4 separate regions of the Homo sapiens genome follow, and regions 2, 3 and 4 are each linked to region 1. Evidence: fine-mapped expression QTL. A gene starts in region 1. Each other region holds a variant in brackets. All regions are shown on one strand. Distances are between the middles of the regions. Region 1 holds the start of C5orf63 (chromosome 5 open reading frame 63). Region 2 has its middle 75 kb from the start of C5orf63. Region 3 has its middle 88 kb from the start of LMNB1. Region 4 overlaps MARCHF3 (membrane associated ring-CH-type finger 3).

Evidence for each region.
Region 2: its variant is fine-mapped to the expression of C5orf63 in lung (TOPMed, PIP 0.96).
Region 3: its variant is fine-mapped to the expression of C5orf63 in whole blood (TOPMed, PIP above 0.99).
Region 4: its variant is fine-mapped to the expression of C5orf63 in whole blood (INTERVAL, PIP 0.93).

The regions. Positions count from the first base shown.
Region 1 is chr5:127,072,038-127,074,727 of GRCh38, reverse strand. C5orf63 (chromosome 5 open reading frame 63) reads left to right here and starts at 1,226. Exons shown (of 5, transcript NM_001164478.2): 1 at 1,226-1,277. RefSeq lists a silencer at 1,150-1,369.
Region 2 is chr5:127,147,119-127,149,808 of GRCh38, reverse strand. No RefSeq gene overlaps it. Among named protein-coding and RNA genes, the nearest start is that of C5orf63, 75 kb to the right of the region's middle. The variant C/T (reference allele first, on the strand shown) is at 1,637.
Region 3 is chr5:126,863,405-126,866,094 of GRCh38, reverse strand. No RefSeq gene overlaps it. Among named protein-coding and RNA genes, the nearest start is that of LMNB1, 88 kb to the right of the region's middle. The variant C/A (reference allele first, on the strand shown) is at 1,450.
Region 4 is chr5:127,025,152-127,027,841 of GRCh38, reverse strand. All of the region lies in intron 1 of MARCHF3 (membrane associated ring-CH-type finger 3), which reads left to right. Among named protein-coding and RNA genes, the nearest start is that of MARCHF3, 4.1 kb to the left of the region's middle. The variant T/C (reference allele first, on the strand shown) is at 1,211.

The DNA of each region.
Region 1 (2,690 bases):
ACCTTGGTTTGCTTTGTATCTTTTTTAAAACCACTGAGTACACATTGAATTTATAGTGGTAAGCTTAAGGCGTCAGACAGCATGAGATGGAATTCCAAATCTACCGTTTTGTAACTGTGAGAACTTGAGCAAGTTATTAAACCTCCATTACTTCATCTGTAAAATGGTACTAGTAATACTTAATTGCATTGTTCTCAGGATTAAACAGACTAATGAGTATAAAGCTTTTGGTGAGCAATCAATAAATGTTAGCTTTGAGTATTACTATAATTATTATCCATCATTTTCTCATTATTTACTGTACCACCATTCAAGCCACCACACCTAGAACCTGGAATGCTCAGTAGCTTCCTCACCTCCCTGCTTGTTCTACTCTTGCCTATCCTAAACCCTTCCCATCTACTTCCCAAAGCTAAGGGGTCCTTTCAGAAGGGAAAAGCAATCAGTTCAATCCCCTTCCCACATAAAACAGAAATGCCCCCCGGCTACCCTTAGCACAAACCTGAAAGGCCCTGCATGGCCAGACTCTCGCTTACCCTCTCTAGCCTGTTTCCACCTCTCTTCCCCATTCCCTCTAAGTCTCAGCCATACTCGTCAGTCTTCCGCATACAACCCATACTGCACATCCTCCACCAGACCCTTCCCCCAGCCTGCAGAGCTCTGTCCCCAACCCACGCCCTTCAGATCCCAGCCCCAAAGCTACCTCTTCAACGAGATCCCACTCAGGTCTTTTCTCATATTCCTTCCCTGCAAAGCACTTAGCTGAATAAACCCATGGCCTATTTAATAAGGGATAATTTCCTAATATCTGCTTTCTCACACGATTTTCAGTTTGCGGGAGGGTACGGCTGCCAGTTTTGCTCATCGCATTCCCCATAACCTAGTTCAGCCAAGACCTAGTGGAGGAGGCAGTAAATATTAAATTAACGAAAGAATGGATGCATGCAGAGCGGTTAAAATGGCTCGGACTCCGCAGCCTCAAAAAGTTGGCTCCCGCACCTGAGGCCTCTTATTAAATGGTTCCCAAACATGCGGGGTCACTTTTCCGTATTTTGTTTTTTAGTTTGGCCTTGGTTTGTGTGTCACTCTTCACGAGTAAAGGTTCAGGCGCGGCCACCCTTGAGAGCGTAGACGGGACACCACCTGAGATAGAACGCCCAGCGGCAGTGCTGCCGGCGTGGGGCGGAAGTGCGGGGCCTGGGGCCGGCGCCTGGTGGGTGCGGGCGGAAGTGCCCGGCGCAGGGCGGAAGCAGAGGCGTTGGCGGCGTGAGGCTCAGGTGGGTTCCCTTAGTCCCGCGCCGAGGGTGAGCGCTCGCGGGTCTCCGCCTCTGAGCTGACGCGCAGGCTGGCGGGGGTTCGCTGTGCCGCGTGCTGCCCATTTGGATAGTCGTTATACGGAATTTAATTAAACCGGGAGCCATAAATCCATGAACTACTTGGGGGAGATTATAAACGCGTGTGTGTGTGTCTGTGATAGCGCTCTGGGAAGTAAATAAATGACGGGCGGGAAAAGGAAGCTTTTTTTTTTTTTAAGAGAAAGCAGAAAACATCTCGAGAAAGCAGAAAACATCTCAACTTCATACTCCTCCAGTGATTCGCCGATGCCCCGTCCCGGGTTTAATTGAATTCTATGAAGTGGTAGTGTAATCACACTTGGGAGCCCGCTGAGCTGACTGCCTTTTTAAATAAATATTTTTGAGCAGCCATGTTGACCTTTAATTGGGGTGAAAAGGTTGAAAGGTGCAGCAGGGAACATTGTGAGTGCCGGGGCTCTCTGGATGAGCTGTCTGGATCTCCTCTCAGCCTTATTGGGCAAAAGCAGCCCTCTGGGTACTGAACAATGAGAGAATAAATCAGAAACTGTACATTCTCAACAGATATTCACTTCTGACAAATAGCAGCTCATACAGTTTTTTAATAAGTCCAAGGGTAGAAAAGTCCCCACTAAAATGTCATTGTGAGTTAGGCTTGTGACTGTTTCTAAGGCTGTCTTTCACAGGGAATGTTTTGCTTGGGTGATCTTTATTCTTGTTTATTAATAAATAGTGTATATGTGGTACTTTATATTTTAGTGCCCTTAAAAAAAAAATCCATAGTATGGCCTTAGCTTGACCCCAAGATTCTCAATTCCTCAAGGACAGAGATGGTGTCTAAGATCTGTTATATCCCAATACTTTCTAGCGCATTTCCCAGAATTAGTATACATTGTCTTGTTTAAGCAGCCACTAGAGCTATGCCTTGGTGCACAATGCTGAACAAGTTGAGGTGTCTATTAGAGGTCGCAGTCTTCTCATTTGGTCATATTCTGAGGACTAGCTTATAAAAATGCATGTGAAGCTCTCTACCAATATTTGGAGCTGTATACATTGGGGTGCATTATAGGTAATTAGAAAGATTTAAAACACGGGGAAAAAAGATACACCCTGGAAATATTGGATAATTATGATAATACTGGGGCAAAGCAGAACTAATCATGGTTCTGTGTGAAATATCGTAGCCCAATAACCTGCGTCCTGCTCTGCTGAGGAATTGCCTGGAACCAGAAAGACCCTGTTGTGAAAATTAAGATTGGTGGGGCTGGTGCTTTAAACAGGCAGGATCCTCAGATTGTCTTTCTTCCCTCCTGCTCTGGCAGCAGTAGCCACATGCCAAGGAAGGATCAATATTTTTTTGTCTCCTTCATCAGAGGA
Region 2 (2,690 bases), 75 kb before region 1:
GAATGACCTGATTTGTATTTAGAAAGATTACTCTGATTGTAACATGGAGAAAAGGGGAACAGGAAGACAGAGCCAGTTAGAAGGATGTTGCAGTTGTCCATGCTAGGGCATTCATGAATTTAACAAGGGACCTTGGTAGCCTGACTGTGTTAGTAGATTAGACATACAATTGTAAAGGCAAAGCACTAGACAAAATAATTTCCACAGGTCCCCCCCAGCTCCATGATTTTCAAATTCCATTTATGTTATACTCAATCAAAGACAGGAGTGATGAGGCATAAGCAGAGAAATTTTCAGATTTGTGATCAATATGCAGAACTCATGCTCCACAGACAGAGGCATTAAAGGCTATGCATGATGCTGATTGCCTGGATAATTCTCTGAGATCAAGCACACTTTACAATTAATGATAAACTTTTGTGGTTCAGGTGAGATCTGCTGTTTTTAAAAGTTTTGGTATTTGAAATTTCATGGCAAAACTCTGTCAAATTTAATGTTGAATATTCTAAATAGGGGCAGAAGTATTTTAACTTCACAAGAGTCACTTCTGTGTCTCCCACCCTAAATAAGATTGGATTTGATAGGAAAATCTAGGGCATTGCCATGACAATTACCGTGCTTAGTCTTAGTTCCACTTGGGCTTTATATAACTCCAATCAGACAAAAAGCAGAGGGCTGTGAGGAGCAGAGCGGGTGCTCACCTCTGCTTCTTGTTATTAGGGCATTCGGACTCCAACAGTAACCCAACATGACAGTAAGCCGCTGATTCTAAACCTTGGTTGTATGTTAGAATCACCTGAAGATCTTTAAAAAAAAAAAAAAAAATCACTGGTGCCTAGGCCCTATCCCTAGAATTTTGTATTTAATTGGTCTGGAATGAGAAGGCTTTAAAAGTTTCCCAGGTGATTTTAATGTGCAACCAGAGTTAAGAACCACCACTAGGTAATTATCACAGCAATTCTCAAGGTGCTGCCCAGAAAGAGCTGGAGGCTGGCAACATTTTCCAAGTGGCTGCCAGTCTGGATTCTTGCATGTTTGAATTATTTCACAGGTTGGGCAAAAATATGGATTTATCACACTAAAAACAAATCTGTTGTTGGGAGAAAATATTTGCAAACCATACAGCTGATATGGGGTTAATACCCAAAATATTTAAGGAATTCATAAAGCTCGATAGCAAAAAAAAAACTTAAATACTCGGTTTAAAAATGGTCAAAGGACCTAAACAGATAGTTTTCAAAAGAAGATATACAAATGAACAACAGGTATATTAAAAAAAAAAAATCCTCAACATCACTAATTATTCGGGAAATGCAGATCTAAACCACAATGAGATCTAATCTCACTCCAGTTAGAATGGCTATTACCAAAAAGACGAAAATAACAAATGTTGGCAAGAATGTAGATAAAAGGGAACCCTTGTACACCATTGGTGGGAATATAAATTGGTACCACCGTTATGGAAATGGTGTCTCCTCCAAATTTATTGAGTTTCCTCCAAAAATTAAAAATAAAACTACCATATGGATCCAGCAATCCAACTTCGGGTTATTGTATCCAAAAGCAATGAAATCATGATCTTGAAGGGATATGTGCACTTTCATGTTCACTGCAGCATCATTCACAATAGCCAAGA[C/T]GTGGAAACAATCTGAATGTCTATCAACAAGTGAATAAAGAAAATGTGGTGCAGGCCGGGCATGGTGGCTCACGCCTGTAATTCCAGCACTTCGGGAGGCCAATGCAGGCGAATCACGAGGTCAGGAGATCGAGACCATCCTGGCTAACACGATGAAACCCTGTGTCTACTAAAAATACAAAAAATTAGCGGAGTGTGGTGGCGGGCACCTATAGTCCCAGCTACACGGGAGGCTGAGGCAGGAGAATGCTGTGAACCCAGGAGGTGGAGCATGCAGTGAGCCAAGATCACACCACTGCACTCCAGCCTGGGCGACAGAGCAAGACTCTGACTCAAAAAAAAAAAAAAAAAGAAAGAAAGAAAGAAAGAAAAAGAAAACATGGTGCATATACACAATAGAATATTATTCAGCCATAAAAAAGAAAATTCTGCCATTTGTGACAACATAAATGAACCTAGAGAACATTATGCTAAGCAAAATAAACTAGACACAGAAAGATATATACAGCATAGACTCACTTATATGTGTGATATGGTTTGGATCTCTGTCCCTGCCCAAATTTTATGTCGAACTGTAATCCCCAGTGTTGGAGGTGTAGCCTGGTGGGAGGTGACTGGATCATGGGCGTAGATCCTTCAGGAATAGTTTAGCACCATCCCCTTGGTGCTGTTCTAGTAGTGAGTTCTTGTGAGATCTGGTTGTTTAAAAGTGTGTAGTACCTCCCCTCTCTCTCTCCTGTGCCTGCTCCTGCTTTGCCTTCTGCCATGAGTAAAAGCTTCCTGAGGCCTCCCCAAAAGCAGAAGCCGCTATGCTTCTTGTACAGCCTGCAGAACCGTGAGCCAATTAAACCTCTTTTCTTTATAAATTACCTAGTCTCAGGTATTTCTTTATAGCAGTGTGAGATCAGCCTAATACGATGTGGAATCTAAACTAGTTAAACTCATAGAAACAGAGAGTAGAATGGTAGTTGCCCAGGGAGATGTTGGTCAAAGGGTACAATCATTCCGCTATAAGCTGAATAAGTTCTGGGGATCTCATGTACAGCCTCATGAC
Region 3 (2,690 bases), 210 kb after region 1:
TGAGTTTGAATCCTGGCTCCATAATGCCCCAGCTGCAGATTGCAGAAAAGTGACCCCATCTACCTAAGCCTCAGTTTTTGCTCCTGTAAAATGGAGACAGTATCTACCTCATATAGTTCTTGTAAGATTCACAAGGCTTAGCTCCCGCTTCACAGATGAACAGTGGTGCCACTCCCTTTCTATCCTTTCACTCACTGTTGCTACCATCTAGGTTATTTTGCCCTAGCCAGGGTTTCAAAGAACAATTTTAATAATCAATTTGAAAGACCATAAACAAATTGTTTTAACTCTTATTCAAATGGAAGAGGGATTAATTTTAAATAATCAACAGATATTTATTGTGCACTGTGCTTGGGAATAAAAAGAACTATTAAGATAACTTTCTGGAGGTTGAAATTACTGATTTGATTGAGATCTTTGAATTATGGGTAGATTTTTATTTTCCCTGTATTTCCTGATACCAAGACCTAGGGTTAATTGAGAATTCATTACAGATAAAAATTTGCTAGTTCTGGGTCTAGTGCTACAGAGGAAAACGAATATAGCCCATCAGTTGTCTGTGTTCCCAGAAATGAGACATTCGTGAGTCACTGAGCTCATACATCCAATGCTTTCTTGAGGCTCTAAATTCTGTGCACAAAGACAACAGAAGGAGAGTTGGCTCAGGGAGCCCTGCTTCGTTATGAGACACTCTCTTTTTTGGAATACACTTTTCATCTATCAATCAGGGCCATAGTTTTCCCATCAAGGAAATGAATATATGAGTCTTTAGCAGAGGTTTTAGCTTATCTGTGAACATCATGTGCAAAGAATTAAGTTAATCTTACATTTTTGGTCATGACACTATTTCTGTGACCATTAGGTCCTTGTTTTTTATTCCACAAATATGTATATAGTGCCAGGCCCTTCTCATGAGCCATGCACTATCCAGCACTTTGATTTTTTTTTTTTAAGACAAAATCCTACTCTGTCGTACAGAGCTGGAGTGCAGTGGGGGAATTTCGGCTCGCTGCAACCTCCACCTCCGGGGTTCAGTCCGTGGCATCTGTTTCTAGGGCGTCTTGAAACGGCTATGGAGGCCCAAGTCTCCTTCCTTAGCCTCCCGAGTAGCTGGGATTACAGGCGCGCGACCACCATACCCAGCTAATTTATTTTATTTTATTATTTTTTTTTTTTTAGTAGAGGTGGGGTTTCACCATGTTGGGCAGGCTGGTCTCGAACTTCTGACCTCGTGATCCGCCCGCCTTGGCCTCCCAAAGTGCTGGGATTACAGGCGTGAGCCAATGAGCCCGGCCCTATCCAACACTTTAAAACTTACCTCCTGGCCAGGCGCGGTGGCTCACGCCTGCAATCCCAGCACTTTGGAAGCCTGAGGCAGGCAGATGGCTTGAGTCCGGCAGATGGCTTGAGCCCAGGAGTTCGAGACCAGCCTGGGCAACACGGTGAGAC[C/A]CCCAGCTCTCCACAAAATACAAAATATTAGACAGGTGTGTCGGTATGCACCTGTGGACCCAGCTACTCAACAGGCTGATGTGGGAGGATCACTTCAGCCCCGGAGGTCGAGGCTGCAGTAAGCCGAGATGGCGCCACTGCACTTCCTGCCTGGTGGACAGAGCGACACCCTGTGTCAAAAGAGAAAAAAATAAAATTACTTTATTTAATCCTCATAACCTTATCTAGTGCCACGTAACAGAACTTAGTGGTCCAAAACAACTACGTTATTGTATCTCATTATTCCACGGGTTGATCTGGCCACAGCTGGGCAGTACCTCTGCCAGGTGTCTTACACAGTCCGATGGCACAGTGCTGCTCCATGTGGCCCGCCTCTCCACGTGGCAGCTGTTTGTAGGACTCCGTGAAATGGCAGTGGCAGCGGCCCAAGGCTCCTGCTTAAACACGGGGCTAGGCAGTCCCAGGGCAGTGCTTACTCTGTATCCTATTGGTCAAAGCAGTCACAGGCCCGCCTCTTGTGGGAGGAGCTACACGCAGACAGGGCAGGACAGAATTTTTTGGAGCCCGTCTTCGCCTATCGTCCCCAGCCCATTTTAGGGATGAGGACACTTAACTAAAGAGGTTGTTAATTGCCCAAGGTAACAGAGCTAGTTAGAGGCACAGCTGGGATTCAGAACCATGCAATCAGAGCATGGACTCAGCCACTAGTTTTAAATATTTTCCCTTTCACTTCTAATCTCCACTCCTATCTCCTTCCTTCCTCCATTAGGCACCCACTCTCTAATATGTTTGATATTATAAATTGAATATGTATGCTTCTTTGCAAAACATATTGTTTTGTAAGTATGTCTTAATTTACATCAACGATATTACAACTGTCCTTTTTCACTGAACACTGTTTCTAAGATGCCTCCATGTTGCTGCGTGTGCTACCTCATTGCTAATGGCTGTTTGGGATTCCATTTTACTTTTCCATTCCCTTAATGTTACCTCCAGCTCCCTGACCCAGCCAACAGTGCTGTGATGGACATCCTCGTGCTCATCCACATATGAGCCTGTCAGAAAGTTTCAGTGCATCAGTGTCCACCAGTGGGAGTGCTGGGTTATTGGACGAAGACATATTTAACTTCACTATTTTGGTCTTGTTCTCCAGGAGTATTTCACTTTAGACACCCCTCCCTGTAGTAATAGTTGAGTTTTCCCATTTCTCCATATTCTTTCCAACACAAGCTATTATTTAT
Region 4 (2,690 bases), 47 kb after region 1:
TTGAGAAACACTGGAATTGTGTTAATGACATAAAAGAACAGTTATAGTCTGTGAGTTGATTTAACAAATAATTGTTGAGAAATGTCCAGGTGGCATTTACTGGCCTTGTGAAATTTATAGGTAATGCATTAACTCTCTGTCTTCAACAATGGACCCCTTTTGTCTTACATCTGAAAGTGTTTTGGAATCCTCAGCTATCCCTATTCCAGGTTGGCCCTGATTCTAAGGAAGTCTGCCTGATGAAACAAGACCTGATGAATTTAAGACCCACCCCACAAACCCCAGTCTTAGTTCCTTCACCCCCCACTCTGAGTTCGGTGGGGTCCTGGGATGCTCTGGGGTGACTTTGCCAGTCCTAATTCACATGGTTGAGCATTTCCTCCTGCAAGGTAGAATCCTTATCTTCATGAGGCACCCTTTTTCTCTTTAAAAGCTGTTCTAGAACAAAGCCCAGCACCTCAGCTGGGCTACTACAGACTATATGAGGTCAATGATCGCCTTGGGAAGCTGTGACTATTTTGCTTGTGGCCAGGAAGAGTGTCCCAGGCCACCCACCCAGAGGCCCAGAGATTCTTACTTTCTGAAAGTCACCTTAGGAGTATTTTGAGCTGCCCAATTAATTGGGTAAATAGATTTTCTCATTGTCACAGAGATGTGGGTTGAGAATTGTTTGCTACCTCCCCTTTCACTGAGAGCACTGTGAATTTTTATTAGTTATTGCCAATTAGTTTTTTATTTATCATTTGATACTGACATTTGGATTCTGTTCTCCCATTTCAGACTGGCATAATTCTCCATTTAAGACTACTAAATAAGGTTTGAAAGAGAAAGGATCTATCAGAAGTTACCCTTCCCTCTTTCTACCATCCAAGTAGCTAAAAAAACAAATGACTTCTTTCAGAGGTGAGAAGTATCCTGATAACAAAAGGATGTGTATAGGCCAGGGTATTAAACTTGGATTGTTCCAGACCACTGGATCGTCACTGGAACTTTTACAGAGTAATTTCTGTTTAAAGAAGCACTTGGCAGGCATGTTGATAGGTCACTTACCTTAACAATCCTTTGAGGACAATGATTTTTTTCCACTTTGTTACAGATGAGCAAACTGCAGCTACAAAAGGATAATATTTAGATCTTGTCTTTCACATTCAAAGATGACACCAATAACTGAGAAGTTGGCCTTGCAACTTAAATTGTTTTGATTTAGGAT[T/C]GTGGTGATATGATAGGGTTATGCTTAGTCGTTCATATCATCTACAATTTTTTAACCTTTTTCTTCAAATTGTTTCTTATATTGAATGTGACCTTGTAGTAGTTTTCTTTATAAAGTTAACTACCATATATAATAATTAGTTCAATGACCCTGACCTTAACCAGACAGTCTTGACCCAGAGAGGCAAATAATTTGCTAAAAGTCCCAGATTACAAAAGCGGCAAAGCCTACGTATAGAATCCTTTAGACATGTGTTTTAGCCCTGTGCTGTTTTGTCTGTTGTCATGTTAAGCTGCTAATGTTTTCACTCTGGCAAAATAGGGTTGCTTTTATTTGCCTAGCTTCTGTGTGATTGGATAGACTTAGAAAAATGGAAAAGCCTAAAATATACTATCCACAGCCCCTGATCATACAATGGGACTGATTTCTGCCCAGTTACAAAAACTATAGTAGAATGCTGCTTTTCTTGAAACTGGGCCATAGGTCATTGCAAGCTTCTAAGCAACAATTCTATTATAACTTTTTTTTTTTTTTAGCTATGGCATTCTTCTGGCATCTAACTTTCCTTTGACAAGTTCTTTTCAAGTTTTTTATGCTTCTTTTCTTACCCTTATCCCCATAGCAAAATCTCCTTGTAAAAAATTCACTTTTTAAATCAGTCTGCCCTCTTAACATCTCCCAGTTCTTCCATTTTAGCCATTTTACCATTTCTCCTCCGAAATGCCCCCTTAAGTTCCCAACCTTCACTTTAGCTTTTTGGGTCTAGTAATATCCTCTAATATACGACAGTCATTGAGCTACAGAAGTTTCACAACAGCTTAAGCTTGTGGATTTAATGATAGCAGTAGTAAGAAGAAAGAAAAAGATGAAGGATAATACTGAAGTCATGTTGATATGTGTGTCATATTAGATATTCCCAGCTTACAGTGTCAGTGGGGAAATTTAAGATTCAGATGAATGAAGTGACAGATGCACTCATCTGTGGCCTCACAGACACTCTCCTGATACAAGCTGAAAAATATAACTGAAGACAGCATCCTGGGTTACAGAAGGAAAACAAATGTTAAGCTCTGAGAAAAGAACTGGGCAAAAAGTGAAGGGTCAGGGGTGGGGTGGGTAGGATGGTGGAAAAGAAATACCTCCAGTAAAATGCCAGACAGGGTGGTAAGAAATTTATAGAGGTGCAGACGGTTTGGGGTTTCTTGGGGGCATTGATTCTGTTTTATATTGTCCTCACAACCTGCTCACCCTGCTTGCTTTAAATAATTTATTATAGCAGCAGGCCTTCCCCTGGTTAGTTTCTTTCTTTTTTTTTTTTTTTTTAATAACTTTTTCCTTCTCATCTCTGGGTCTAATCAGAGGCATATATAATAGTGTGGCTGCCCTGGAGTACTTAGGAAAATCTGTGATCAATATCACTATATTATAAACCTATGGCTGTTTTGTTCTATTTTGCAATGTTTTCTTCCCTGTTATATTA